Homo sapiens: one gene and its partners. The protein of the gene in region 3 purifies or fractionates together with the protein of the main gene of each other region. This does not show direct contact. Each region holds a gene or a part of one and is shown on either strand. Other genes may lie near its edges. The genes, in order: LMNB1, TSPAN3, RNF13, PI4K2A, HSDL1, VAMP7 and AP1S2.

What was found.
Region 1: the proteins of RNF13 (region 3) and LMNB1 purify together in Homo sapiens (co-purification; one study listed by BioGRID). This does not show direct contact.
Region 2: the proteins of RNF13 (region 3) and TSPAN3 purify together in Homo sapiens (affinity purification with mass spectrometry; 3 studies listed by BioGRID and IntAct, with this or other methods). This does not show direct contact.
Region 4: the proteins of RNF13 (region 3) and PI4K2A purify together in Homo sapiens (affinity purification with mass spectrometry; one large-scale study listed by BioGRID and IntAct). This does not show direct contact.
Region 5: the proteins of RNF13 (region 3) and HSDL1 purify together in Homo sapiens (affinity purification with mass spectrometry; one large-scale study listed by BioGRID and IntAct). This does not show direct contact.
Region 6: the proteins of RNF13 (region 3) and VAMP7 purify together in Homo sapiens (affinity purification with mass spectrometry; one large-scale study listed by BioGRID and IntAct). This does not show direct contact.
Region 7: the proteins of RNF13 (region 3) and AP1S2 purify together in Homo sapiens (affinity purification with mass spectrometry; 2 studies listed by BioGRID and IntAct, with this or other methods). This does not show direct contact.

What each region holds. Positions count from the first base shown.
Region 1 is NC_000005.10:126,818,636-126,822,135, reverse strand, and holds part of LMNB1 (lamin-B1), read right to left. Parts: exon of another isoform or gene 3,215-3,500; coding exon 2,994-3,214; intron 1,227-2,993; coding exon 1,001-1,226; intron 1-1,000. UniProt on the Homo sapiens protein: Lamins are intermediate filament proteins that assemble into a filamentous meshwork, and which constitute the major components of the nuclear lamina, a fibrous layer on the nucleoplasmic side of the inner nuclear membrane.
Region 2 is NC_000015.10:77,050,610-77,054,109, reverse strand, and holds part of TSPAN3 (tetraspanin-3), read left to right. Parts: intron 1-1,180; coding exon 1,181-1,333; intron 1,334-1,641; coding exon 1,642-1,725; intron 1,726-3,500. UniProt on the Homo sapiens protein: Regulates the proliferation and migration of oligodendrocytes, a process essential for normal myelination and repair.
Region 3 is NC_000003.12:149,868,715-149,872,214, reverse strand, and holds part of RNF13 (E3 ubiquitin-protein ligase RNF13 isoform 1 precursor), read right to left. Parts: intron 187-3,500; coding exon 61-186; intron 1-60. UniProt on the Homo sapiens protein: E3 ubiquitin-protein ligase that regulates cell proliferation. Involved in apoptosis regulation. Mediates ER stress-induced activation of JNK signaling pathway and apoptosis by promoting ERN1 activation and splicing of XBP1 mRNA.
Region 4 is NC_000010.11:97,650,671-97,654,170, reverse strand, and holds part of PI4K2A (phosphatidylinositol 4-kinase type 2-alpha), read right to left. Parts: intron 3,231-3,500; coding exon 3,030-3,230; intron 1-3,029. UniProt on the Homo sapiens protein: Membrane-bound phosphatidylinositol-4 kinase (PI4-kinase) that catalyzes the phosphorylation of phosphatidylinositol (PI) to phosphatidylinositol 4-phosphate (PI4P), a lipid that plays important roles in endocytosis, Golgi function, protein sorting and membrane trafficking and is required for prolonged survival of neurons.
Region 5 is NC_000016.10:84,131,678-84,135,177, forward strand, and holds part of HSDL1 (inactive hydroxysteroid dehydrogenase-like protein 1), read right to left. Parts: intron 1-3,500.
Region 6 is NC_000023.11:155,933,345-155,936,844, reverse strand, and holds part of VAMP7 (vesicle-associated membrane protein 7), read right to left. Parts: intron 1-3,500. UniProt on the Homo sapiens protein: Involved in the targeting and/or fusion of transport vesicles to their target membrane during transport of proteins from the early endosome to the lysosome. Required for heterotypic fusion of late endosomes with lysosomes and homotypic lysosomal fusion.
Region 7 is NC_000023.11:15,828,060-15,830,813, forward strand, and holds part of AP1S2 (AP-1 complex subunit sigma-2), read right to left. Parts: exon of another isoform or gene 2,000-2,754; intron 142-1,999; coding exon 133-141; intron 1-132. UniProt on the Homo sapiens protein: Subunit of clathrin-associated adaptor protein complex 1 that plays a role in protein sorting in the late-Golgi/trans-Golgi network (TGN) and/or endosomes.

The DNA of each region.
Region 1 (3,500 bases), on a different chromosome or scaffold from region 3:
TAATCCCAGCTACTCAGGAGGCTGAGGCAGGAGAATCTCTTGAACCCAAGAGGTGGAGGAGCCAAGATCATGCCACTGCACTCCGACCTGGGCAACAGAGCAAGACTCAAAAAAAAAAAAAAGGCTACAAAGAGACCTTAGAGCCTATTCTCTTTAGCATTAAAACTGTTGGTGCTCATTAGTGCTCCTTCACTCATCCAAATTACATATTCATCCACATGCAAGATAGTTTTAATAACTGTGGTGAGAAAAGACTAATTTTCAAAACTACTTTTAGCAGGCCCTGAACATATGTTTCAAGATGTGACATCCATCCCACTGCCGCCTGCACGCTCCCAGACCATGCCTTCCTCTAGTATCATCTCACAACCCATCATGGCCTCCAGCTCCTTGATGCAGAGCTAGGGAAGGCCCACACTACAGAGCTCCCGAAAGCCCCAGCCCTAAATTTCAGAAATCTCTGCTATGAATACTTCATGTTTACTTTTAAACATATTTCAAAATAAGGCTTCATGCTATTTTTCATGTAAAGTATTAGCATTTGTTCATTCATTTATTTGCAGGGAAAAATATTCCCTTAATATCTGAGTCCAGGCTCTTATCTCCTTCTTTCAGTAAGCTTTTTATTAAGTTAATGACCGAAAGAATATCCACCATTTTCATCCAATTGCTCCAACTTCTTCACAAATTTGGCTAGGGCAGAGAATAATAATAACTCATCCTCAGAACCACTGTGATAAAAGGAACATGCTTTTCAAAAAAGCCCTGGCCCTCTAAAGAAGGGTTAATGAAGCAAATCTTTAAACTACTAAGGGTACCTAACTCTTCCTCCTCCTATTTTAATTTTTATTTTATTTTATGAATTTAAGTAAAAAGGACATAAACCCTTATTCCATGAAGACGTAATGAATCCAAACAAAAACTAAGGAGCTATGACAATTGCAAGAGAATCTAGCAATCCACAAAGCCTTGCTAGAAAAAAAAGGGTCTATTTTATTACCTGTTCAGAAGTGTTCTTCAAGCGGATAAATTTCCCATCAACATCAATTTCTTCGATGCAAACATTTCCAGTGGCTGAGGCGGAATGAGAGATGCTAACACTACTACTCGCCTCTGATTCTTCCACATCAACCCTCTTCCGCTTTCCTCTAGTTGTACGTACACTACGACTTGAGGATGCTCGGGATACTGTCACACGGGAAGAAGGGCTTGGAGACAGCTTCAACCTATATGGGAAAAATAAAACAATTCATTTTTAAAACACATATGCCCTTCTCGCCTTAAAAAAAAAAAAAACAAAAAAACAAGGGCTGGGCACAGAGGCTCATGTCTGTAACCCAACAGCACTTTGGGAGGCCAAGGCAGGTGGATTGCTTGAGGTCAGGAGTTCAAGATCAGCCTGACCAACATGGTGAAACCCCGTCTCTACTAAAAATACAAAAATTAGCCAGGCGTGGTGGTGGGCGCCTGTAATACTAGCTACTCAGGAGGCTGAGGCAGGAGAATGGCTTGAACCCGGGAGGCAGAGGCTGCAGTGAGCTGAGATCACACCACTGCACTCTAGCCTGGGTGACAGAGTGAAAACCTGTCTCAAAATAATAATAATAAGAAGAAGAATATCCCACCCATGCATTTCTAAAGCAAAATATTACTTACAATCTGTTAGCCAAAGCCAAAGTTTACCTTAACTAATGTAAACTTCTTCATAAGGTGCCCATCGTCAATTTTCTTTTTTAAAAAATAACAATCTGAATGTTTTCTCTAGGGATGGAAGTAATATAACCATAATGCAAGAAGTCTGGTAAATGGGTAGAAAGTCATCTGATCTACCACCACCCACCACAGCCACTGTTATAGTTGGTGTACTTTTTTCTCTTTTCGTACCTGTACTTTCTTATGATCACAACGGATATAATATTAAAATTATCTGGCTTTTTATCCTAAATCAGCCACTTTCCTTTTGGAACTTTTTTTTTCTTTTTCTTTTTTTTGTGAGACAGAGTTTCACTCTTGTCACCCAGGCTGGAGTGCAATGGCACAATCTTGGCTCACTGCAAACTCCACCTCCCAGGTTCAAGCAATTCTGTCTCAGCCTCCCAAGTAGCTGGGATTACAGGTGCCTGCCACCATGCCCAGCTAATTTTTGTATTTTCATTAGAGACGGAGTTTCACCATGTTGACCAGGCTGGTCTTGAACTCCTGACCTCATGTGATCCGCCTGCCTTGGCCTCCCAAAGTGCCGGGATTACAGGCATGAGGCAATGCACCTGGCCCTTTTGGAACTCTTTTCTGAGAACAGGTGTCAAAAATATTTATACATTGACCAGATTTAAAATATATATAAAGCCAGCCGGGCGTGGTGGCTCACACCTGTAATCCTAGCACTTTGGGAGGCTGAGGCGGGTGGGTCACTTGCAGTCAGGAGTTTGAGACCAGCCTGGCCAACATGGTGAAACCTCTTCTCTACTAAAAACAAAATTAGCCGGGTGTGGTGACACACGCCTGTAATCCCAGTTACTCAGGAGGCTGAGGTAGGCAAATCGCTTGAAACCAGGAGGTGAAGGTTGCAGTGAGCCGAGAATCACACCACTGCACTCTAGCCTGGGCAACAGGCTGAGACTCTGTCTCAAAAATAAATAAATAAATAAATAAATAAATAAATAAATAAATAAATAATATGTAAAGTCTCTTTCAGCCAGTTTGGCATTTTACAATATATTAAATCACCAAAACACTTAAAATCTCAAAGGAACTAATCCATCCTGATGCAGTTCAGCATTTAAAGTAATAATAATAAATAAACTAAGAGTACTTGAGCAACATTTTCTGCGATGAGGTAGAAATATGATCTATTACTACTTCTATACCTAGGTGTTCAAAGAAATGACCAAGAAAATAAAGTTCTTTTTAAAATGCTATTTATTTTTATTTCAATAAAAAGGGTGAGAGGCAAAAAGTGGACCATAAGGTAGGGTGACCCTTAAGTTCCTTACCTCTCTTCTTCGCCTTCTAAGAGTTTCCTGTAAGCACTGATTTCCATGTCCAGGGCTAACTTTACATCAAGAAGCTGTTCATAGTCATTCAGCTGTTGCTGCATTTGATCCCTTATTTCCGCCATCTCTCTCTCTTTGTCTGTCAGCATGCGACGAGAGTTGTCTTTTTCTTTAGCAAGCAAGTCCTCTAATTCTTGAATCCTTTCCAAACATGCTCTAGACTTAAGATGCAAGGAAACATATTTACTTTCTAGGAACATTCCAACATTAGCACCAGGCAGCTATTTTAAATCATTTCCTAGACTGGAAAACAGTACAACCCTATGGAATCTCTAACTCACTAGAATTCAAGAGATTTTAAGAAATTAAAACCCAAAATTCCTCAAATACAAAACACAGACCTCAGGATAGTTTTGGCTGATAAAAGAATAAAAGACATATTCCACAAATGTAAGTTCTGTAAATATACATATAATTTTTCTGTACTTAGCCAAAAAAATGTTAAGA
Region 2 (3,500 bases), on a different chromosome or scaffold from region 3:
TATTTCTGTGTAAATTAGCCATGTTTCTTCACATACATGGCTATCCTGATGTGACCAATATTTTTCCCCAACCTTCACCCTTGAAAAGTTTATTTCATCACCTAGCCAGATGAGAAACATCTTGAACTTTTTTTTATCATCTGATTTCCCCTTCCCTGACCCCAGTCTGTACTCTCCCAAAGTACTTAGCCAAAGGGGTGATGACGCAAGAGAGAGGTATGTGTCACAGGAAAGGTGGGAGTCCAGATTGACTCCAGGGGAGGTGGGAGGTCTATATATACCTTTAGAAAACAAGATAAGAAAAGGCAACAGAAAAACTGTCAAAAAAAAGTTGTTATGGACAGTCTGATACACACAAAGGTAGAAAGAATAGTGTAATAGATGTTTGCACCCCGACCTTGCCTCAGTAATATCAACTTTTCGTCAGTCTTATTGCCCCTACTTACTTTTTGCTTCATTATCTTAAAGCAAATCTCAAAATTTTTAAGACCAAATATTTTAAATACTTTGTCATTGGAAATAATATTTAACATGGAACCAGATATTTAACATGTAAGACATGAAGATTTTCCTTAGTTAGAAACTACCGCTTATAGGCAATGTACTTTTCTTTTCTTTTTTTTTTTTTTTTTTTTTTTTTTTTTTTTTTTTTTTTTTTGAGATGGCGAAATTTCACTCTTGTTGCCCAGGCTGGAGTGCAGTGGCGCGATCTTGGCTCACTGCAACCTCCACCTCCCGGGTTCAAGTGATTCTCCTGCCTCAGCCTTTGTATTTTTAGTAGAGACGGGGTTTCACCATGTTGGTCAGGCTGGTCTTGAACTCTTGACCTCAGGTGACTCGCCCATCTCGGCCTCCCAAAGTGCTGGGATTACAGGCGTGAGCCACTGCACCCGGCCTGGCAATGTACTTTTCATATGGAGATTCTGGAGCCACTAGCCATGTCTGGCTGTTTACATTAAAATTTAAAATGCAGTTTTCTAGTCACACTAGCCACAATTTAAGTGCTCAGTAGAGCTTCATGTGGCTAGTGGCTGCTATATTGGATCATGCAGACTTTCCATTATAGAAAGTTGTATCGGACATCACTGGTCTAGAGTAGCTTATTTTAAAGCTCTGTAGTACATGGAACTTCAGGTATTTGGTTTTTGTGAGAAATAATACTTATTCTCTTCTCCTTTAGCTGCATTGTTGTGGAATTCACAACTACTCAGACTGGGAAAATACAGATTGGTTCAAAGAAACCAAAAACCAGAGTGTCCCTCTTAGCTGCTGCAGAGAGACTGCCAGCAATTGTAATGGCAGCCTGGCCCACCCTTCCGACCTCTATGCTGAGGTGAGTCTCTTGGCCACGACTTGAGTCTAGCTTGATTAACCTGTTTTTCACCATGTCTTATCACCATCTGGGACTTCTTTTCTGCCACCTTGCTTGTCTTTAATGTCATATATTGTTTTACTGTAAATTATTATAAAATGCATGTCTTTGTTTTAATTACATGTCTGTAAATTATACCAATCATGGAATCTTTTTTCCACTCTTTCAGTTTCTGTCATTTTCCTTTCTGTAAGTGGGTAGTGGCCTGTGAATCTGCAGCTTTAACTTTTAAAGAACACTTCTAACGAGGATGACTGTGTTTGTTACAGGGGTGTGAGGCTCTAGTAGTGAAGAAGCTACAAGAAATCATGATGCATGTGATCTGGGCCGCACTGGCATTTGCAGCTATTCAGGTAAGCACAGCTTGCCAAGGAGTTCTATCGGAGTGAGTTGGTTCTCTGTTGTCAGCCCTGAATGGTTTTAATCCCCATCACAGTGAATCTTTGTGTATGTAGGTAATGTGGAAGTGACTGAGGTACTGGCCTCCAGTTTCCCATGTTTTCCATTTCTTGTCTATACACCTAGACCCGGAATGGTCTAAAGAAACCAGAAATCTGGATGGGGAGGGACCACGTGTTGAGGGAACTCCTCGTCTTACTGTCTTTCTTGATTAGTGAGTGACCTGTTCAAAACATAAACGAACTGTTGTCTTAGTGTATTCTTGGAAGATATTTTATTAGAATGTCACAAAATTTTTAAAAATTGTACTTCTTTCTTTCAGTTTGGGAATACAAAGCTTTATTCAGTTTTTTTGTATGCTAGTTCTCCCTCTAGTTCTTGTTTTTCTGTCCTCACAGGTTTTATATATTCATATACGTAAATCAAGAACTGGTACTACAGCACTGGTCTCTTGCACTAAACACAACAACTTTTAAAAATAGAGACAAGGTCTCACTCTGTCACCCAGGCTTGAGTGCAATGACATGATAATAGCTCACTGTAACTTTGAACTCCTGGGCTCAAGCGATCCTCCTGCTTCAGCCTCTCCAGTAGCTGGGACTACAAGCACGGGCCACCACACCAGACTAATTTTTAATTTTTTTTTTTTTTTTCCAGAAATGGGGTCTCATTATGTTGCCCAGGCTGGTCTCAAACTCCTGGCCTCAAGCAATCCTCTGTCTTGGCCTCCTAAAGTGTTGGGATTTACAGGCGTGAGCCACCGCACCCAGCTTATGCTTTCTTTTCTTTTCTTTTCTTTTTTTTTTTTTTACGACAGAGTTTTGCTTTTGTTGCCCAGGCTAGAGTGCAATGGTGTGATCTCAGCTCACTGCAACCTCTGCCTCCCAGGTTCCAGTGATTCTTCTGCCTCAGCTTCCCAAGTAGCTGGGATTACAGGTTCCCGCTACCATGCCCAGCTAATTTTTGTATTTTTAGTAGAGACAGGTTTTTACCATGTTGGCCAGGTTGGTCTTGAACTCCTGACCTCAGGTGATCCACCTGCCTCGGCCTCCCAAAGTACTGGGATTATAGACGTGAGCCATCGCGCCCAGCCTCAGCTTATGCTTTCTTAAGCCTGAAACCTATTTCAAGAGCTAAAAGAGCCAGGTGTGATGGGTTACACCTGTAATCCCAGCACTTTGGGAGACCGAGGAGTAGGATCCCATGATGTTAGGAGTTTGAGACCAGCCTGGGCAATAAGACTCCATTTCTACCAAAAAAAAAATTTTTTTTAAAAAAGAAAAATGTAGATAACTTTTATTTGTTAAATAAAACCAATGTAATTGCTAGTTTAAATGTAAGTTGCTTGGATTGCTTGCTCTTTGTATATTTGAACAGAAGCTAGTGTATTTAATGGGAAAGGCCTTTTAAAATGGCAAAAGGATGATTGTTTACTTTGCTGATATTCAGACAGCCCTGAAATGATTCATTAAAAAGCCTACCTCTTTATTTGCCATGGTCTTTGCCCTTCTAAGCATTTACTCTGTAGCTCTGCATAGCAGTAATCTGATGATCAGCAGGGATTTATTTCATATTTTGATTATTTATGCAAACACATTCATTTAGCTAAAAATAATGAAATATGAGGAAGGTCTCTTTTCCCAAATAGAATTCTGAACTGTGCATTCTTAATGATTTTATGTTCAGTAATAAAGCCACATGTACTAGCATGCAGCAAAAAAGTTTTGGA
Region 3 (3,500 bases):
ATGATTTAAATTAGCTAACTGAACAAATAGGAAACAAAAAATGAAAAAAGATAATCATACCTTTATATCAAAATTACAATCAAGTCTTCTAATTAACACGATGAAAGTGCCAGATGAATTGTCTTTTACTGGTGGAGGCACTATGGGTTCACAGGCATTCTCTGGTTTTGAGTTAATCAAAAAACCCTGAAAAAGAATTGGTAAAAATTATCTCTCTGTTTCACTCAGTAAATCAATCAACTTACTTCTACAAATATCTTTTCGATTTGTCATGTGTTTTGCATTATGCTAGATGTATCATTGGGCATGTAAAATTGCTCACAATCACGGAACTTCTAAAGCAGCATTTGCTTTCACAAGCATTTAGTTTTCTAAAATAAGTTCTATCTTTTGTATTGAAGTTAAAAAAATAATAATAATAAGCAAACTCAGGCATAAGCCAATCACCCCAAAGACAACCACTGGTATATTTTCGAACAATATTTGACATTTTCAAACCAAGCAAATATGTCTTAAAAATTAACTTTCTTTCATGTTAGCAGACAATGAAATGCACATAATAAATAAATTTCTAGAAATTTATTCTGCAGAAATGCTAGCCTGAGTATGTAAGGTGTATGTGGAAAGACAGTCATTGGTACATTATTTTTAATAGCAAAAACTGGAAATCATGCATATCCACAAGGTAACTATTTAAACAATTATAGTATATTTATACAATAGGAAAATAATGCAGCCATTTAAAAAAATAAGGAAGACCTGTATACACTAAACTGAAAAGACGTCCACGAGATAACCATGAATTTAAAAAGTAAACAGCAAGTTGCTTTCCCAGGAATGCAGGATGGTTTGACATAAGAAAATGTAGTAACAGGCTGGTCACAGTGACTCACATTTGCAATCCCAGCACTTTGGGAGGCCGAGGCAGATGGATCACCTGAAGTCAGGAGTTCAAGACCAGCCTGGCCAACATGGCAAAACCCCATCTCTACTAAAAATACAAAAATTAGCCGAGCATGGTGGCACACACCTGTAGTCCCAGCTACTTGGGAGGCTGAGGCAGGAGAATGGCTTGAACCCAGGAGGTGGAAGTTGCAGTGAGTCAAGATTCTGCCACTGCACTCCAGCCTGGGCGATAGAGCGAAACTCCGTCTCGGAAAAAAAAAAAAAAAAAAAAAATCTGGTAACAGACTAAAACAGAAAAATCAAATGTCTATCTTTTGTAAAAAGTGAATAAACACATAAAAAGATGATCAAATTCACTGATTTCATTTATAAAGGAAGGAGGCAATTAAAGCTATGAGACAATGCCTTAACAACAGTTCTGTATGGTCCTGAACTGGTCACACCAATCATCTATTCCACAGGATTTGGCAATTTCTCCTCCCTGAAATTATATTGCTCAGCTTGTGATATGGAAAGTGTTTGTACATATCTTGGGTATAAAATGTATCACTCTTTCATTTGCTCATATAATAGCTCCTCTTCTTAATCCCATAAAGCACTCGGTTTTTGTTTTGCAACGAAGTACAACTGTGGTCATCCTTCCAATGATGAATATTTGCTTTATTCTTGTTAAATTTGCATCCTGCTCTGAGTGCCTTTCTGCAAACACTAAGTTTTTGCTCCAATGCTAAATCATATAGTGTAGGAAATATTTTTCAACATGATTATTACAGCAATTAAACTCAAGCCATATAGGTTGGCTTCCAGCTCCAAAATGATGATGCAGAAGCAAGCTGGTTTGACTCCCCCCATAGAAAAAGAAAAACAAATGTACAGCAATGAGATTACGGCCAGAAATAAGCTAGAACTCAAATATAAGGAGAGATCATTCCCAGGGCCACAGAGAAGTAAAAAAAACTCCCAGCAGACAGAGAATCAGACTTCCACATCTACTATGCCCCTCCCCCCATTTTGCCGAGCACCAACTGCAAGGAAAATTTCCCTCCAACTCACTGTTTCTACACTGGAAAAGTAAGACCAAAGTGGAACCAGATTGCCCACTATCTTGGGTTCCCTAGGAGGAGATTTGTCCCTTCCTTAACCCACAGAAAGCATCACAAGTACCTGAAGGGAGAAATATCCATGAGGTAGATAGAGACTAAGAGGGGAAGCAGGACTACAATCCCTAGCCCTGGAAAGGAGAGCCCTCCTTTGTAATTCTACCAAAGGAGATGCCAAATCACAGTAGCTATTCAGTAGCACCATACAGTAGGTTTGTCCCACAGGTCCACTGGGCATGAACCTCCACAGTCAGCCTTCCCACAGTGCCAAGATATCCCTGTTGGGAACTGCCCCTTTGGGAAGGGCAGCATTTTGATAATTTACTAGAGCCAAGGTGAACCTAAGCTTAAGGCATCACCTATAGCCAAAAAGGAGGCAGTAACCTAGCAGTAAATAACCTCTAACCAAATACATCCAATAGAAACCAAAACAAGCCAGACAGAGAAGAACAGAATAAATAACTAATCTTTCAATGCAAAGACACTGACATACATCCACAAGAAACAAGAGCAAGCAGGGAACCATGATCCCCAAATGGACGAAGCAAGAAACCAACAAGCAACCCTAACAAGATGGCAATATGTGAACTTTTTTTTTTTTCTGAGGCGGAGTCTCGCTCTGTCGCCCAGGCTGGAGTGCAGTGGCGGGATCTCGGCTCACTGCAAGCTCCGCCTCCCGGGTTCATGCCATTCTCCTGCCTCAGCCTCCCAAGTAGCTGGGACTACAGGCGCCCGCCACTACGCCCGGCTAATTTTTTGTATTTTTTAGTAGAGACGGGGTTTCACCGTTTTAGCCGGGATGGTCTCGATCTCCTGACCTTGTGATCCGCCCGCCTCAGCCTCCCAAAGTGCTGGGATTACAGGCGTGAGCCACCGCGCCCGGCCTAATATGTGAACTTTTTAACCAAGAATTCAAAATAGTAGTTTTAAGGAAACTCAGTGATCTCCAAGATAACACAGAAAAGAAATTCAGAAATTTATCAGAAAATTTTAACCAGAAAATTGAAATAATTTTGTTTAAATCAAACAAATTTTGGAACTGAGAAATACATCTGCTGACCTGAAAAATTCATTAAAGGCTCTCAACATCAGAATGGATCAAGGAGAAGAAAGAATCAGCCAAGTCAAAGACAGCCTATTTTTTAAGTACACAGAAGAGAAAAAAGAAAAGAGTGAAAAGCAATAAAGATCTCCTACAAGATAAAGAAAATTACCTCAAAAGACTAACTCTAAGAATTATTGTGTTCAAGAGGGAGCTGAGCAAAAGTAAGGTATAGAAAGCTTATTCAAAAAAATAATAAAAAACTTTCCAAAACTTGAGAAAGATGTAAATAACCAGCTACAGGAAGGTCAGAGAACAAACAGATTTGACCCAAATAAGACTACCCCAAGACATACACTAATCAAACTCTCAAAGGTCAAGGACAAAGAGAGGATCCTAAATGCAGCAAGAAAAAAGAAGAAAATGATATACAAAGGAGTTCCAATTCATCT
Region 4 (3,500 bases), on a different chromosome or scaffold from region 3:
ACCTGAAACCTCATAGGAGCAGAGAGCAGAGACAGCCAGTGAGTGAGAATTAGAGCCTTACCATTTGAAGTTCCAATGCAATGTGAACCTTGTTTCTATAATGACAGATGCTCTGATCAACTGGATAGAGTCCTGTCACAAGAGTTGGGGAGACAGGGAGAGGAGTCCTCTTACTATTCTCCAGCAGCTATATGTTAAGCTTCCAAAGTTCTGTCTCATCTCAGTCTCATGGAAGACAAGTATTTTTTTTTTTTGAGACGGAGTCTCGCTCTGTTGCCCAGGATAGAGTGTGGTGGCACAATCTCAGCTCACTGCAACCTCTGCCTTCCAGGTTCAAGCGATTCTCCTGCCTCAGCCTCCCAAGTAGCTGGGATTACAGGCACGCACCACCATGCTCAGCTAAGTTTTGTATTTTTAGTAGAGACAGGGTTTCACCCTGTTGGCCAGGCTGGTCTCGAACTCCTGACCTGAGGTGATCCACCCACTTAGGCCTCCCAAAGTGCTGGGATTACAGGCGTGAGCCAATGAGCCCAGCCAAGACAAGTATTTTTGTTGTTGCTGACTTTCTGATGCAAAAGATCCTCAGGCCTCGTGAAGGTTCTCTAACAGGGAAAGAGGAAGACCAAAGATAGGGACGAAAGGGATTGTGGGGGTGACACTAACGATTAGAATAGCTGATAAAAATATCACAGGCTAACATATGGAGGGTTTACGTTGTGCCTGGCACTCACTCAGCTATGTGCTTCATATAGGCTGTCTTGTGTAATATTGATGGCCACTCTACAAAGTAGGAACTATTTATATCCCTATTTTTACAGTAAGGAAACTGAGCCTAGGGAGGTTACATGACTTGCCCAAGTGTTACACAAATCAAAAACTGCAGAGCAAGAATTCAAACTCAAGTCCTCTGATTCTTGGGCACCACACTCCAGAAGCACCAACAGAGCAGGTAGGCATAGAGCCAGACACGGTCTGCTATTTGCCTAGTAAAGGAAGAAAACTATAGAGTGATAAGCAAGGAGAATGTAAAAGTTTCTAGAGTCTAAGAGGAGCCTAGTAGAAGCATTTCAGGTTAGGAGACTTAAGAACATTAATTATCATACAAGATGTTCAAAGCATGCTGTAAAACTATCTGCACAGAGAGGGAAAAGTAAGGCATAAAGAGAAGGAATGAGCTGTACAAAGCCAGGCAGTGAATTAGATGTGAAATGGGAACTAGAAGCCTGGTCAAACATTTTCTCGCTAGACCTAAAGTTGGAAGAACTTTGGTATTGTTTCTCATGATTTCATATTCATTTACTGACTCAGCTGGTACTTCATGAATGCTTACTATAAATATAGTATTTTGCTAGGTGCTGAGAATGAGAGAGGAAATCTTGAGAAGTGGTCTCTGACTTCTATAACTTACAAACTAGTTGGCTAATTGTTTGGAGTTTAGTAGCAAAGGAGCAGACATGGTTAAATATCCACAATAGTCACATTTTCCTCTCAAACGGAAGGGAAGTTTCTACTGCTGATCAATCTCTTTGCTCATAGAATCTGCTATCTAAACCTGAGAAGACATCTTTAAGGCTGGGTGTGGTGGCTCACACTTGTAATCCCAGCACTTTGGGAGGCCAAGGCAGGAGGATAGCTTGAGCCCAGGAGTTCAAGACCAGCCTGGGCAAAACAGGGAGACCTTGTCTCTACAAAAAATTAAAAAAAAAAAAAATTAGCCAGGCATGGTGGCACATGCCCGTAGTCCCAACCTGAGAGGCTGAGGTGGGAGGACTGCTTGAGCCTGGGAGGTCAAGGCTGCAGTGAGTTGTGATCATGCCACTGCACCCCAGCCTGGGCAACAGAGCAAGACCCTGTCTCTAAAAATAAGAAAGAAAAGAAAACTTTAAGCAGAGGGATTTTAATCTAGAGACATGCTCCCTGGGGTGTCAACAGATAGACTGCAACGTTTATGAACCATTGCCCTAAAATTATACACAAAACAATAATTGCAAATATATGTACTTTTTCTGGAAAGGGGGTCTATAGGTTTCATCAGATTCTCAAAGAGTTATTTACTAAATAACTAAATAAATTTAGTTTTAGTTATTTAGTAAATAACTAAATAAACTAGCATAGACTAGTTAAGACTAAGCACGGAGCCAGGATTGTTTAGATGACTCAGCAGCCTCAGGGCATCAGATGAGAGTCCCACCTAAGTTGTTACTAAACCCCAGGTAGCCACGTACTCAGTGAATGATGTGTCCGGACATGTTCATATGCTGACCAGTAGATTCCTTCCCCTCATAACCTTTGGTGAGTTTCATGGAATACCTTGTAGTGCAGGGGTTCTTAGCCTGGTGTCAGTAAACTCCCTCAAATTGTATGCAATCAATTCTGTATTCAAGCATATTGGTGGGGGTGGGGGTTGGGGGAGACCTCAACTATGTCTATAACACATACAAGATGTGTATGAATCCATTCTGAGTGTGAGTTTGCCTAGATCTGGCACCCCTATTTTGATGTGTTCAGACAAGTCCCAAAATTCGACAGCATAAAGATAAGTTAGAAATATTCCATGTCAGTTCCCTGTAGGGTTCAGGCCAGACCATTGTTCTAACCCTCAGCCTGTCCTAAAGTCTTCCTTGTCAGACCCTGCAGAAGTTCTTAGCTGTCATCAGCCAGTCCTAGACTGTATCGAAATGCTGGGATGGCTCAGAAGTCTGAGAGTAAGCCACAAAGTCACTAGGTTTCTAACTAGCTTGGGGTTAGCTGGGATTCAAAGACCAAGGGAGCCATAAACATGCAGTAGAAGTTTGTGAATTTCCTAAAATTGTATGCAAAAATTGTGTGTGTATCCTTCAAAAGATAGCCTTCATCAGGTGATCAAATCATAAGCCTAATCCTGCCATCCTCCCGAAAAAAGATCGAGAACCCAGACTTAGGGTATAAATGACCCCACTGGACCCAAGGTCCCACTAACATGTAGCAGGGCTTAGGCCCCAGGAAAACTGTGGCCAGGCAGTAAGGCTTCCTGGAGATGGGTCACTGACCTTTGTACGGGGAACAATGTTGAGTTCCAGTTTTTGGTCCACCAGGCTGGCCCCTGCTTCTGAGAGATAGCCCTGGTTAAGGACAAGGCAGTCACGGCCAAAGCAGCAAGGACAGCACAGCTTCTGCAGCCACTTGGTCCACTTAGGATTAAGATGCCCATAGGGCTCTTCATTCTTGGGTTTGAAGACAGCAATGATCCTCTACAGAGACCAAAGAAAAAGAGGATGTTAAATCCGAGTTGACCAAAATAGCCCACAGACCAAGTCAGCAGGAATCTGGAAAGAAATGACAGGGCATAGGCAGACAATTCCTACTTACAGTTGGACTCAGGTTTCTCCCAGTTGGTAAGGGGAAGACACCAGCTCGTGTGTGCAGCTAAGAGACCCACTGCTAGAAAGGGTTGTGGCCAAAGAACATCTTAAGTCTTCTCTTTCTTCCTTGCTCCTTTTTCCCTCTTCTCCATCTCTTTT
Region 5 (3,500 bases), on a different chromosome or scaffold from region 3:
CTAATTTTTTTTTTTTTTTTTGAGACGGAGTCTCGCTGTCGCCCAGGCTGGAGTGCAGTGGCGCAATCTCGGCTCACTGCAGGCTCCGCCCCCTGGGGTTCACGCCATTCTCCTGCCTCAGCCTCCGGAGTAGCTGGGACTACAGGCGCCCGCCACCTCGCCCGGCTAATTTTTTGTATTTTTAGTAGAGACAGGGTTTCACCGCGTTAGCCAGGATGGTCTCAAACTCCTGACCTCAGGTGATCCGCCACCCTTGGCCTCCCAAAGTGCTGGGATTACAGGTGTGAGCCACCATGCCTGGAGATTCAGCCAATTTATGATCTCACCATTTAACATCCGTAGCTTATAAAGTTACTTTCTTCCAAGGAGACTAATCAACATAACTACCAGAAGTTACCAAATTCCCACTAAAATTCAGGTACTACACTACATGCTGTGGCTACAGAGATAAACACAATATGCTCTGTGCCTGTAACATGCTCCTAGTCTAATAATAACAAACACAAAGCTTCTAATTCATACAGCAGAGGTACATGTATTTCTTTGCTTTATTCATAATCAGCAAGAATGGAGGACCTACTACCTGTGTAGGGACAAAGGAGATGAAACAGAGGTGGCACTAAGACATGGCCTTGGCCTCAAAAGCTTACAATCCACTGGAGACAAAACTCAGCTTTCAAAAACCTTTACATCAATTAAAAAAAAAATTTTTTTTAAAGAGATACCCTCCAAGCTTGGAAAAATGGCTTCTCAAATGACAATAGAGGGAGCACTCCTCCATCTTCTAACTTAATTTGTAACCATTATGTTGCCTGGTCTCTTACATTTGAGGAAAGAAAAGTCCAACACAACTCTGTTGAGTGTCCACATAGCAAGTATATACTAAGCACCTACTATGTTCTATGTACTGTGATTCAAAGGATTCACAGATGAACTAAATGACCGTCCCTAGGTGAAGACGCAGACATTTAACAAAATAATGTAAAATGCCACATGATGTGGTAGGTGTGTGCCTGCAATCAGAGATAACCCTGCAGAAGTAGACAAAGGCCAGGCATGGGGGGTCTGGCCACAGACCGAGTGAGTGGACTTCATATCAGGCTAAACCAACCGTGTGCATCCTGCGAAAGACAAAATATCAAAACAACTGCAATAGACTACACTTATATTACAGGGAACTCAGATACACACAAACCCAAGGACACAGCTTATATTCTAAAAAGAACATGATTTTAAGCCAAAAGAAAAAGAAATATAAAACTTCTGGGGGTGGCAACTTTTGAAGAAATCCCTTTAAAATAGAAAAAAAAAAAAAAGTCTGGATACTAAGAAAATACCCAACAATAGCAGCACAAATTAGCCTAAGTTTGAGAAAGAATGGGGAATTCCCTCCTACTCCACTGCAGTGTAATCTGAGCTCAACAAAGTTTTGCAAAGTAAAAAAGGAACCAAGCAGAAGAAAACAAATGAACCACTGAAACGGAACACATACAAGAATGGCACCATATTGTGATAAAAGGCATATAAAATAATTTTAAAACTATTGAATAAATATATATAAATGTGTAGTGTGAATTACAAATCAACAAAACGTACACAAGAAATATGACTGAAAACTGAAGAAATGGAGAAGCAGTAGGATTCCTAAATGCCCTACGATAAGGAAACAATCTCTCTAAAAAAGAAAGTTTCATACTGGTACCGTATTAAGTTGATATTGCTGCTATATTAAGTTACCAAATTAAGCCAATGTGGCATTAAGTTTAAAAAATGTTTTCCTCAGCCGGGCGCGGTGGCTCATGCCTATAATCCCAGCACTTTGGGAGGCCAAGGCAGGTGGTCAGGAGTTCAAGACCAGTCTGGCCAAGATGGTGAAACCTCGTCTCTATTAAAAATACAAAAATTAGCTGGGCATGGTGGTGGGCACATGTAATCCCAGCTACTTGGGAGGCTGAGGCACAGAACTGCTTGAACCCGGGAGGAGGAAGTTACAGTGAGCCGAGATCATGCCACTGCGCTCCAGCCTGGGCGACAGAGTGAGACTCCATCTCGAAACAAACAAACAAAAAAGTTTTCCTCAAATGAAAAGTTGGGCCCCTTTATTCCCTACAGGTAAAATGCTGTCCACTGGGGCTCTGTGCACAGAAACTCACCTCCCACAATGAGAATGCCAAAGTTCATCATGAAAAGGAAACATTTTAAATTTGACTAAGTACATAAACCAAATACTTAAGCTAAAAACAACTAAAATAAATGCTCCTTTGGGGTAATTTTTCTTTATGAACCAGATTGGCTGAGATGACCTAAAATATGAGCTGTCTAGTTCAACAAAGTCTTTCTTTTTTCTGAGCAATCTTCCGTACAGCAGTCACCAATACCCCTTACTGCTCCCAAATCCTTTGATTGACAATCCTTTGAAATATATTCAAAGTTAGGGCCCCCCCTTCAGTGTAGCGAACGAGCATACCTGTTTCCAGATCTGCATGAGAGGAAGCCGCGCCACCACCCCTCCCACAACCCTCCTGCTGCTGGATATGCTGATGACGGGCACGGTATCAGAGTTTTCACACTGGCTGTAGCCCTTGAACAGTCATAAGTACTGGACTCCCAAAGACAGGCCCAAAACATTAATATCCTATAAGAACATTAAAAACTGACATTCCAGCCAGGGACGGTGGCTCACACCTGTAATCCCAGCACTTTGGGAGGCCGAGGTGGGCAGATCACTTGAGGTCAGGAGTTCAAGACCAGCCTGGCCAACATGGTGAAACCTGATCTCTACTAAAAACACAAAAATTAGCCGGGTATGGTGGTGACTGCCCAGCTTGGGTGGCTGAGGAAGGAGAATCACTTGAATCAAGCAGGCGGAAGTAACAGTGAGCCAAGATTGCACCACTGCACTCCAGCCTGGGCGACAGAGTTAGACTCCATCTCAAGAAAAACCCCAAAAAACAAACAAAAAAAACAACCGAGATTCTATGTTAGACCATCCTAAATTGTGAGTTCCGGAAATAACTCATAAAAAGTGTGGGTGCCTTTTGTCATAACTAATCAAACACAAGGCCATGAGGAAAGTAAATGCAAAAACAATTACCTGTATGTAATTACCTGTATGTACCAGGACCTCTCAAGCAAAATGTAATAAAATTGGGAATAACAAGCTATGACTAAAGAAACCTAGACACTTGGAATATTAAGCTTATTCTTCTAATAACAGGTAGGCATACATCTAGGCTGTTAAAACAGTGTTTTCAATGAAAAAATAGATACTACAGGCCAGCCACGGTGGCTCGCGCCTGTAGTCCCAGCACTTTGGGAGGCCGAGACGGGCGGATCACGAGGTCAGGAGATCAAAACCATCCTGGCCAACAGGGTGAAACCCTGTCTCTACTAAAAATACAAAAAATTAGCAGGGCGTGGTGGCGGGCACCTGTAGTCCCAGCTACTCAGGAGGCTGAGGCAGGAGAATGGCATGAACCGGGGAGGCAGAGCTTGCAGTG
Region 6 (3,500 bases), on a different chromosome or scaffold from region 3:
AAATTTCCTTTGATTCCTGTTCCAAGATGGCCAAATAGGAACAGCTCCAGTCTACAGCCCCCAGCGTGAGCAACGCACAAGACGGATGATTTCTGCATTTCCAACTGAGATACCGGCTTCATCTCACTGGGGCTTGTTGGACAGTGGGTGCAGCCCACCGAGCGTGAGCCGAAGCAGGGCGAGACATCGCCTCACCCGGGAAGCACAAGGGGTCAGGGAATTCCCTTTCCTAGCCAAGGGAAGCTGTGACAGATGGCACCTGGAAAATCGGATCACTCCCACCCTAATACTGCGCTTTTCCAACGGTCTTAGCAAACAGCACACCAGGAGATTATATCCCGCGCCTGGCTCAGAGGGTCCCACACCCACGGAGCCTCACTCATTGCTAGCACAGCAGTCTGAGATTGAACTGCAAGGTGGCAGCGAGGCTGGAGGAGAGGCGCCCGCCATTGCTGAGGCTTGAGTAGGTAAACAAAGCTGCCGGGAAGCTCGAACTGGGTGGAGCCCACCACAGCTCAAGGAGGCCTGCCTGCCTCTGTAGACTCCACCTCTGGGGGCAGGGCATAGCTGAACAAAAGGCAGCAGAAACCTCTGCAAACTTAAATGTCCCTGTCTGACAGCTTTGAAGAGAGTAGTGGTTCTCCCAGGACAGAGTTTGAGATCTGAGAACAGACAGACTGCCTCCTCAAGTGGGTCCCTGACCCCCAAGCAGCCTAACTGGGAGGTACCCCCCAGTAGAGGCAGACTGACACCTCACACGGCGGGTACCCCTCTGAGACAAAACCTCCAGAGGAACGATCAGAGAGCAACATTTGGTGTTCAGCAATATTCACTGTTCTGCAGCCTCCGCTGCTGATACCCAGGCAAACAGGGTCTGGAGTGGCCCTCCGACAAACTCCAACAGACCTGCAGCTGAGGGTCCTGACTGTTAGAAGGAAAACTAACAAACAGAAAGGACATCCACACAAAAACCCCATCTGTATGTCACCATCATCAAAGACCAAAGGTAGATAAAACCACAAAGATAGGGAAAAAAACAGCAGAAAAACTGAAAATTCTAAAAATCAGAGCGCCTCTCCTCCTCCAAAGGAACGCAGCTCCTCACCAGCAACAGAACAAAGGTAGACAGAGAATGACTTTGACGAGTTGAGAAAAGAAGGCTTCAGATGATCAAACTTCTCTGAGCTAAAGGAGGAAGTTTGAACCCAGCACAAAGAAGCTAAAAACCTTGAAAAAAAGATTAGATGAATGGCTAACTAGAATAACCAATGTAGACAAGTCCTTAAATGACCTGATGGAGCTGAAAACCATGGCACGAGAACTAAGTGACGAATGCACAAACTTCAGTAGCCGATTCGAACAACTGGAAGAAAGGGTATCCGTGATTGAAGACCAAATGAATGAAATGAAGCGAGAAGAGAAGTTTAGAGAAAAAAGAATAAAAAGAAACGAAAAAAGCCTCCAAGAAATATGGGACTATGTGAAAAGACCAAATCTACGTCTGATTGGTGTACCTGAAAGTGATGGGGAGAATGGAACCAAGTTGGAAAACACTCTGCAGGATATTAGCCAGGAGAACTTCCCCAACCTAGCAAGGCAGGCCAACATTCAAATTCAGGAAATACAGAGAACGCCACAAAGATACTCCTCGAGAAGAGCAACTCCGAGACACATAATTGTCAGATCACCAAAGTTGAAATGAAGGAAAAAATGTTAAGGGCAGCCAGAGAGAAAGGTCGGGTTACCCACAAAGGGAAGCCCATCAGACTAACAGCTGATCTCTCGGCAGAAACTCTACAAGCCAGAAGAGAGTGGGGGCCAATATCCAAAATTCTTAAAGAAAAGAATTTTCAACCCAGAATTTCATATCCAGCCAAACTAAGCTTCATAGGTGAAGGAAAAATAAAATCCTTTACAGACAAGCAAATGCTGAGAGATTTTGTCACCACCAGGCCTGCCTTACAAGAGCTCCTGAAGGAAGCACTAAACATGGAAAGGAACAACACATACCAGCCACTGGAAAAACATGCCAAATTGTAAAGACCATCAAGGCTAGGAAGAAACTGCATCAACTAACGAGCAAAATAACCAGCTAGCATCATAATGACAGGATCAAATTCACACATAACAGTATCAACCTTAAATGTAAATGGGCTAAATGCTCCAATTAAAAGACACAGACTGGCAAATTAGATAAAGAGTAAAGACCCATCAGTGTGCTGTATTCAGGAAATCCATCTCATGTGCAGAGACACACATAGGCTCAAAATAAAGGGATGCAGGAAGATCTACCAAGCAAATGGAAAACAAAAAAAGGCAGGGGTTGCAATCCTAGTCTCTGATAAAACAGACTTTAAACTAGCAAGGATCAAAAGAGACAAAGAAGGCCATTACATAATGGTAAAGGGATCAATTCAACAAGAAGAGCTAACTATCCTAAATATTTATGCACCCAATACAGGAGGACCCAGATTCATAAAGCAAGTCCTTAGAGACCTACAAAGAGACTTAGACTCCCATACAATAATAAAGGGAGACTTTAACACCCCACTGTCAACATTAGACAGATCAATGAGACAGAAAGTTAACAAGGATATCCAGGAATTGAACTCAGCTCTGCACCAAGCGGACCTAACAGACATCTACAGAACTCTCCACCCCAAATCAACAGAATATACATTCTTCTCAGCACCACATCGCACTTATTCCAAAATTGACCACATAGTTGGAAGTAAAGCACTCCTCAGCAAATGTAAAAGAACAGAAATTATAACAAACTGTCTCTCAGACCACAGTGAAATCAAATTAGAACTCAAGATTAAGAAACTCACTCAAAACTGCTCAGCTACATGGAGACTGAACAACCTGCTCCTGAATGACTACTGGGTACATAACGAAATGAATGCAGAAATAAACATGTTCTTTGAAACCAATGAGAACAAAGACACAACATACCAGAATCTCTGGGACACATTTAAAGCAGTGTGTAGAGGGAAATTTATAGCACTAAATGCCCACAAAAGGAAGCAGGAAAGATATAAAATTGACACCCTAACATCACAATTAAAAGAACTAGAGGAACAAGAGCAAACACATTCAAAAGCTAGCAGAAGGCAAGAAATAACTCAGAGCAGAACTGAACGAGATAGAGACACAAAAAACCCTTCAAGAAATCAATGAATCCAGGAGCTGGTTTTTTGAAAAGATCAACAAAATTGATAGACTGCTAGCAAGACTAATAAAGAAGAAAAGAGAGAAGAATCAAATAGACGCAATAAAAAATGATAAAAGGGGATATCACCACCGATCCCACAGAAATACAAACTACCATCAGAGAATACTACAAACACCTCTACACAAATAAACTAGAAAATCTAGAAGAAATGGATAAATTCCTTGACACATACACCCTCCCAAGACTAAACCAGGAAGAAGTTGAATCTCTGAATAGACCAATAACAGGCTCTGAAATTGAGGCAATAATTAATAGCTTACCAACC
Region 7 (2,754 bases), on a different chromosome or scaffold from region 3:
AAATCACAAAATAAAGGACCAAGGAGGCCAACTTTCAGGTATTACTAGCAACGAATTTTGTAATTAAAAGGCAACACTATATTTTAATGATGGAAAATAATATAAATTTTTGGCATCCAGTAATAAACTTACTTTCGCATCCTAATCATGGTACAGCACAAAGCAAGGAGAAGAGAAATTATATTAAACCATAAATCTTTAGAATATTAATTGCATGTAAAGCACTTCATGGTGTAATCTTAAGTAAATTACTTAAACTCTATGGTCTGTTTCCTTATTTGGAAAACATGGATAATAGTACTTACCTTCATATGTTGAGATTAAGTGAATTAAGGCTCTGCCTAATTTATAGAAAGTGCTTCAAAAATGTTAGGTGATATAGTTACACAATTGAAATCGAAATGATTTAGCATTTATTATTAAACGCAAGTACTATACACCAATTCTACTTATAAAGCTCATATGATGACCTTTTAGTATGTCTGCATAGTAATAAAAATGGGTAAAAATCAGCTTTAGCGAAAAAAGGTATTTTTTTAAAAAGAGTCTAACCTATGAAGTATTCTTGCCCCCTCAAATTGAACCTCAATCTAGTCAGGTTACAGATCTAAATAGAAATGAGGGATATAAGAACAGCTAAACATTGCCATATGAGTATGATGGCCAAATCCATAAGGTAGGACATCCTGCAGCATAAATGACCTCGTTTTAAAAAAAAAAAATGGCAAGGCGGGAAAAAGCAGACGATTTGTTAAAGATTAAAAGAGACTTAAAACGCACATCAATCAGATACAATGTGAGAGTCTTGGTTGGAATCTGATTCTAACAAACCAAATATAAAAAGGCATTTTTCAGACAATTAGGAAAAATTGAGCCAGGCATAAGATAGTAATTATTAATTCCTGTTAATTTTGTGGGGCATGGTACTTTATCTGTTAGGGACACATACTGAAGTATTAAAGACAAACTGACAAGATGTCTAGGGCTTGCTCTAAGATACTGAGGCAAAAATGCGGGGAGTGGTTGGGGAAACAGTATTAAGTTGATGGTTCTTGAAGCTCAGTGATGTGTACACGAGGGTTCTTTATACTATTTCCTATACTCGTGAGTCTTGAAGTTTTCATGATAAAGTTTTTTAAGAAAGTCCAGTGGAAATGATGTAACACCCAAGAGTGATGTAAGCCAATCCCTTTCATTTATATTTAGCCTTAAGCATTAAATACACTGAGAATGACATCTAAATCTCATAAATATTCAAGAAAAATTTAAAATAATTATTTCCATGTAATGTTAAGTAGTTTAAAGGTTCATGTAGCCTTGAATGTATCAATTAAATAATGCCTCCATTGAATTCTACAGTTTACATTCTCAGCTTCTCCATGTAAAAATGCCCCACAGCTACTCCGTGGAGCTGGTCAGACTTTTCCCCATGTGCTCACTGCCTGCAATCTTATATAGCATTTCCTGTAGAGAATCATACTGCTTATCAAATATGCATTATTGAAAATATGTGTCCTTTCTAAAAGGCCTAGTTTCAAAGAATTATTTACACATTTTATTCTTGTGAGACTTGCACAGGTAGAGTTTTAAAATAAATTGTGGTGATAATATAAAATGGAACTTACACATGTTCACACTGAAATTGTAGCTCAAAACTACCCAGAAAAACTATTATCTATCTAAAGTAGTAAAATTTATAGAAACAGAAAGTCGAATGGTGGTTGCCAGGGGCTGGGGGACAGGGAGAAATGGGGAATTGTTGATTAATGGGTATAGAGTTTCAGTTCTGCCAGATGAAAAAGTCCTGCAGATCTGCTGCACAACAATGTGAATAAACTTAACTAACACAACTGAACTGTACACTTAAAACTGCGTAAGATGGTGAATTCTGTGTTATGTGTTTTTAACCACAATTTAAAAAATTTGCCTAGAAAAATGAAAATATAAAACGTTATTTTATGAGGGATGGAAAAGAAAAAGTCATTCACATGAGACGAAGTACATGCAATACTTTTATTTTAGACATGCAAGGAAAGCTATTTCAGAATCTACTAATTTAAAGCAAGCAGCTGTATACAGACAGCAAAAGAAGCAACATTTTGTTACAGCTTAGCACAAGGCATCCAACACAAACAGGCATGAGACAATGCATATTTATGTAGCATTAAAACCAGATGAATAATATATTGTGGGGCAGGAGGAGGAAAGGAGGGGAAAAAAAAATAGAAATGAAAGACCAATGTTTCTCAATGCTTCCAATATATAATGCTAAATTTCCCACCTGATTGATAGCACATCCAGGTGCTTCAAATGTCGTGCATTACAGTGAGAATGTTAAGAATGGAAAATCTTATCTGTGTACCTGCCTAATACTAAGTTTGGTCAAAACACATTTTCATAGATCTTCTTTCAGTGATAAATCGATTTGAACATCTTGTGAAGTTATTGTTTAATAACTTACTTAACTTAGGCTTTATGCTCTCTAGATATAAACAATGAATTCTTTTCCTTTTATAAAAAAATATGCTGCATGTTTTATTAAAAGAATATGCAATAGTTACCAATATTAAAGGTTTTAAAATTCAGAAATATAATGCCACAGTTAACAAAGTATCAAGTATTTAAATGAGGACTTAATATATTAGAATGCCATCACTAGTAAAATATAAGTATTTAGGTATTAAAACTGAATGAATATTAGAATTTTTGAACTATATAAACTCAGCATTAATGCTTTGAAAGAGTTATTATTCA